2 separate regions of the Homo sapiens genome follow, and region 1 is linked to region 2. A link means that fine-mapping ties the variant in region 2 to the expression of a gene that starts in the linked region. Tissue or cell type: whole blood. Region 2 holds a variant in brackets; the other region holds the start of a gene. All regions are shown on one strand. Distances are between the middles of the regions.

Region 1 (2,911 bases), 100 kb before region 2:
TGGGAGGCAGAAGTGGGAGGATCACTTGAGGCCAGGAGTTTGAGCCCAGCCTGGGCAATATGGTGAGACTCTGTTTCTACTAAAAATACAAAAATTAGCCGGGCTCACGCCTGTAGTCCCAGATACTTGGTGGCTGAGGCACAGAATTGCTTGAATCTGGGAGGTGACCCAGGATCGCGCCACTGCACTCCAGCCTGGCGTACAAAGCGAGATCCTGTCTCAAACAAACAAAAAGAAAAAAGAAATAAAAAAGACAGCTAATGTAGTATTAATTTGAAATGAGGGGGATCTGCCTGTCCAGTATTCAAATCCCAGTAACCTCTGGATGAATTACTTGCCATTTCTAGTTCTTGTCGCTTAATTTTAAGATGGAAATTTCTACGTTGAAGTTTTAGAGAGGTTGTTGAGAGAACAGAGACGATACAAGTCCATGCTTAGAATACTCAGTACATAGCAAAATAATAAATATTTTCCCTCTGCCCTCTCTCTTTTCTTGGAAAGCCAGGTAAGCAATGAGAAGTTGGTTTATGGCCAGGTGTGGTGGTTCACGCCTGCAAATCCCAGCACTTTGGGAGACCAAGGTGGGAGGATCCCTTGAGCTCAGGAGTTCGAGATCTGCTTGGGCCACATAGCAAGACCTCGTCTCCACAAAAAATTAAGATTACCTGGGCGTGGCACATTCCTGTAGTCCCAGCTACGGGAGGCTGAGTTGGGAGGATCACTTTAGCCTAGGAGGTCGAGGCTGCAGTGAGCTGTGATGGCACCACTGCACTCCAGCCTGGGTGACAGCCCTGTCAAAAACAAAACAAAACAAAAATTGCTGACGTATGCACAGTTAAAGCAAAAAGAGTTGGGATCCTTGAATGACGTTCATGTCTGTTCTGGCAAAGCCGGGATTGTTGGTCCCCCAAACTTCTTTAAAGAAGTTTACTCCTGGTAGCTCGATTAAGTATCTTTGTCCCATGGCCGTGGGGAATAAAAAGTTCAGTTGTCACCCCCTTTTTAAACTAAATGTCCGAAGAGACAAGGCAATCCCATCCTCTCTTCACACATTTGTGCAGGTGCAGCTTTATTTCCCACCGTGCGGTCCCAGGAGGCCGCCTGGTCTTCTGCGCTCACTTCCTAGGCATCCCTGGCCGCCCCTCGGCAGCCTCTCCTTCTGGCCTGAGACTTCCAGCTGAGCCTCATCCCCTCCACCTGAAAACTGCTCCATGGGGCACTTCATCTACCTGGAAAGTTCTCGATTTCCAACTGGAGCCTGTATACTGCTGGTTGTGTCTCAGCAGTTATTACAGCTCTGGGCTTACAACGGGAGCTTAGCAAAAGTTCCACCCTGGCTTCCTAGACTGCTACAGCTCCAAGAAAAATCCTGTGCGCACAAACGGCCGCCGCCTTTGGCGTCTCCCGCGGATTAGACCAGTTAGGAGGTCTCAGTAGGCTTTTAGGCAGGACAAGTTTTACGCCTGGCCAAATAAGGGTCAGACTAAGCAAGGCGCCTCCGTGCGCCTAGCCAGAGCGGTGCCGGCTGCGGAACCTGCCCCGCCGGGAGCCTAGTGCCATGCAGCAGCGGCGGCGGTGGCGGCTTCCCAAGCGCGGCGGCAAATCCGGGCCCGCCCGGAAGTGCCCGGCGCTGTAGGAGGGAGCAAGGGCCCAGGAGCCGCCGCCGCCGCCGCCGCGCGCACGCGCCCTCGCGGGCTGGAGCCGGGGCTGGAGTCGTAACTCGGAAGCCGGAGCCCAGACGGGCCCGCGGCGGGGGGGTGGGGGCTGCGCGGGGGCGGGAGTGGCGGAGGTGGCCGCCCCTGGCGGCGGGTTTGTTTATCCCGGGGAAGAAGTTTAGGAGCGGGAGATAGGGAAGGAGGGCGGGTCGGGGAGGAGGGATGCGGTTCGGCGGAGGCGGCCGCCACAGGGACTTGCCGCCATCACCCCTGCTGCCACCACCGCAGCCTCGGGCTCCCAGGGCGGACACGGCCACCGCCTCAGCGGGAGAGGAGTCTCCACCAGGACTGACCGCTGCCGCCCAGCACGTCCAGGTAGGCGCCCCTTCCCCTCCCCCCAGTCCCCGCGGCAGCCCCAGGCGCTTGCTCCCCTCCCCCGGCTCTCCGTAGACCGGCGGCCTCCTGCTCGCGCCTCACTGCGCCCTCTGCTCTCTGGGTCCCGGACCCCTGCTCGGGCGGCGAGCTCCGGCCTGCTCTGGGGACTACCTCCCACGCCCCCGGACCGCCCTTCCCTCGCGCGGCGGCACCACTTTCCCCGGGGTTGCCCCCAATCCCTCCTTGATTTCCCAGCCTCCACCTTCCAGGATCCCCTTTAGTTTTACCCCCGGGCCTCGCCCCTTCTTTTCCTCTGGCTTCTCTCCTCCTCTATACCTGTATACCTCCACACCTGCCCCTTTTTACCTGAGTGCTGCCCAAAGGCAGAAACTGCATGCTCTGCCACCGCGCAGCGTCCACTTTCATACCTCCTCATCCCAAATACAGACACTTGAAACTCTCGTCCCTGTTAGCCCATTTTAGGCAGAGTTCTCAGCTTCGCAGACCGCTCACTACCTCCAGTCCGGTGGTCATGCCTTTAACCTCTCTTTAACCTGCTTTCTAATACATTTTTGCTCACTTATACCAGAGTACATCAAGCTAACCGCGCGGTTCGGGGTCCAAGTCTTCAAAGAGCCCACTTGTATTCCTGCTGCTCTCCTTTTTCCTAATTCTTTTTGAGTCAATGTATTTGTATATTGATTCAACATAAAAGAAAAGGGAAGGTAGCATTTTCTCTCTCAAAGCAGTCACACAACCCAGTAGAAATAAGATTCACCATCTGCTTATCCTAACTTTCGCTTGTCTCTTTCCTGACTGAACTCTGTCATTCAGTGATTCTTTCCAGGCTTCTGATGCTTTGTCTATTTTTGAATAATCTT
Region 2 (2,911 bases):
GAGTCATGTGCAAGCTCGTGGCAGCAGCAAGTCCTCCTAATATGTCCCTGGTATCAAACTAACTCATTAGACTGTGGTAGCTGTGGTTGACTCCTGGTTTCTCCCAACTCCACCCTTTTGGCAGGCAGCAACCCTGGCCAGCAGCTGCTCATGGTCTAGGAAGGACAGCTGTCTTAACACCCATTCATCTGTAGAGAGCAGCCTTTTGGATCAGCGGATGGCTCCACCAGATGCTCAGCTTGTTTTCAGTTCTGGAGTCTGAAATCCCCAGTGCCATCTACCTGGCATCAGTCTCAGGTGCAGCATTTTCATAAGGACCCTGATGTCAGCAGCTGCTTGTGTGGGTAACACTAGGTGAAATCATCCACTTATGTTCTCAGGTTAAGAGTTGATTAGGCCAATTGTATCCAGATCATTTTCCCTTATGAACAATGGCAGCTGCATGGCACATTTTTCAAAAATTTAGTCTAAAATACATGAAAAATATACTGTTTTCCTTTTTCTTGGAAATGGGAAAATAGATTTGGACTCAGTTCCTGAATTATATTTTCTCTCTCCCTGGGTTTCAATAGCAAGCCTAATGTAACTGTGTGTAAAAAGAAGTATTTTAATTTGGAGGGAAGGAGTTTGCCCTCACCACAAATCAACATTCTTTTCTCTATAAAACACTTGAGCTTGCATATGCAAATGAACCCCATGTAGGCATAATAATTAGTCATTCTTTCACAAAGAAATAATTGATGAACATTGTGGTATATGACAGACAGCATTAAGATACGTCAAGATTCTTTTGGATCTCTCAGCTTGTCAAAAAGCAGATGTCGATTTTGTGGCCTTGCTGGTAAAACATTGGACTCTTTCTCTTGGTGCACAATTTAGTCACCTTCTATAATTTGCTTTGAAATGAACAAGATCTGGCATAATATATCTTCTATTTAATGAGCAATATTACAAACAAGATTAAAAGAAATGGCTATGAAGCTATTGTCTTTGCAAATTGAATTTGGCAAGAGACGACTACAGACAAGTAATGAACTTTCTAGATACGTCACAGGGACAGATCATCATACTCCAGAATGGCATAGCTTTCTTTACAAACTTTAGTAAATGTATGGGAGAGCTTGTCATTCAAATACTAACAATTACAGAGATTCTAGGATGAATTCCAATAAGCTCATGTGGTTTAATTTTAGATGCAAACAGAAAGAAATCATTATTCACATAATTTTTGTTGTTAACCTTTTGGAGTAAAGTTGACAGAGTTGGAAAATCTGTACATTTAAAAAGTGTTACTGTTTATGATTACTGCGTTAGTCTGTTTGGACTGTTATAACAAAAATATCCTGGATGGGGTTGCTTTAACAACAAACATTTATTTTCCACGGTTCTGGAGGCTGGGAGGTCCAAGATTGAGGTGCCTGCAGATTCTGTGTATGGTGAGGGCCTGCTTTCCAGTTCACAGACAGCCATATTCTCACTGTGTTCTCACAGGGTTGAAGGGCAAGGGGCCTCTCGAGAGTCTCTTTTTACAAACTGTGCTTATCCCATTTATGAGGGCCTCACCTTCATGACCTAATCACTTCCAAAAGCCCTACCTCTAAATACCATCACATTGGGGATTAGGTTTCAACA[C/T]ATCAATTTTGGGGGAGCCATAGAGATTCAGTCCATAGCAACTACTAATGTTAATAATAGCAGTTACCATTTACTGAGTAGTTACATATGGTAGCCACTCTATTTAGTGCTTTCCATTTAATCCTCACTGCCATAGAAAAGAGATAAGTAACATTGTTATTCCCATTTTCAAATTAGCAATGTGAGTGTTTTAACCATAAACTTGTCCGAGATCAAGAGTTAGAAAAGAGAAGAGTCAGAATTCCACGTGTGCCCCATGACTTGAGATTCTGCACTTTTATTTGCAGGGTGAAACATCTCACAGTGGAAGAGGAGCATTCTGTGTTGAGAATTTCCATTGACGAAGCCAACTGAGTGGCCTGATTCCCTTGGACCAGCAATCTAGAGCTAGGGAAGATGTTGCCCCAAGGAAGAGGCACAGCAGACACTTGGCTCTCCTCTTGGGTTTCTGCTTTCTCTGAGAAAACAGAAGTTTGAGGCCTCTAGAAGCACTGCATTCCCTCCAAAGGGAGGTTGTAGATACATTAATTAATATGATTTTAATTCAAAACTTCCTGAGGCAGATAATTCTAAATGATTATCCCAAAAATATTTCCAACACCCTTCTTTTTACCACCCACTGGCCCCCAAATCCTCAATTTTCCAGTCTCCCTTGAGCTAAGTGTGGCCCTATGACTCACTTCCAGCCATGAAAACAAGTGCAAATCTGTTAGGAGTATGTTCTGGGGCAATTTTTGCTCTCCTGATGAAGACAAAGGCTGTTGATCCACTGAACCCACCCAGGTAATCACTTATTTTGTTCTTGTTCTAAGAGAAAAATGACCCCAACTATTAAAGTTACTGTGAGTTGATTAGTTTGTTTCTACTACCAAATATATTCCTAACTGCTACAGCTTTCAATATTTAATCATATTTAAAATTTTTCTTATGCAGATTAAATAGGTCAACAGATAAGGTAATTAGCATAATATTATCACCATTTTAAAGGCAAGGAGGAGGAGGCAGGCATGGTGGCTTACATCTGTAAATTCCAGCAACTCCAGAGCCTGAGGTGAGAGGATTGTTAGAGGCCAGGAGTTCAAGACCAGCCTAGGCAACATAGAAAGACCCCCATCTTTACAAAAAATTTAAAAAGTGTGCCTGTAGTCCTAGCTACTGGGGAGACTGAGGCGGGAGGATCACTTGAGCCCGGGAGTTGGAGGCTGCAGTGAGCTATGATCACAACACTGCCCTCCAGCTGAGTTACAGGGTGACATCCCCATCTCCAAACAAAAAAGAT

The links.
Region 1: SPOPL starts here. The variant in region 2 is fine-mapped to the expression of SPOPL in whole blood (TOPMed, PIP above 0.99).

The regions. Positions count from the first base shown.
Region 1 is chr2:138,500,090-138,503,000 of GRCh38, forward strand. It overlaps SPOPL (speckle type BTB/POZ protein like), which reads left to right and starts at 1,681. Exons shown (of 11, transcript NM_001001664.3): 1 at 1,681-2,030. SPOPL-DT (SPOPL divergent transcript) reads right to left here and starts at 1,606. Exons shown (of 2, transcript NR_187149.1): 1 at 1,230-1,606; 2 at 1-791. RefSeq lists silencers at 1,577-2,116, 2,317-2,366.
Region 2 is chr2:138,602,145-138,605,055 of GRCh38, forward strand. LINC02631 (long intergenic non-protein coding RNA 2631) reads left to right here. Exons shown (of 3, transcript NR_174959.1): 1 at 1-297; 2 at 1,920-2,415. Among named protein-coding and RNA genes, the nearest start is that of LINC02631, 2.0 kb to the left of the region's middle. The variant C/T (reference allele first, on the strand shown) is at 1,633.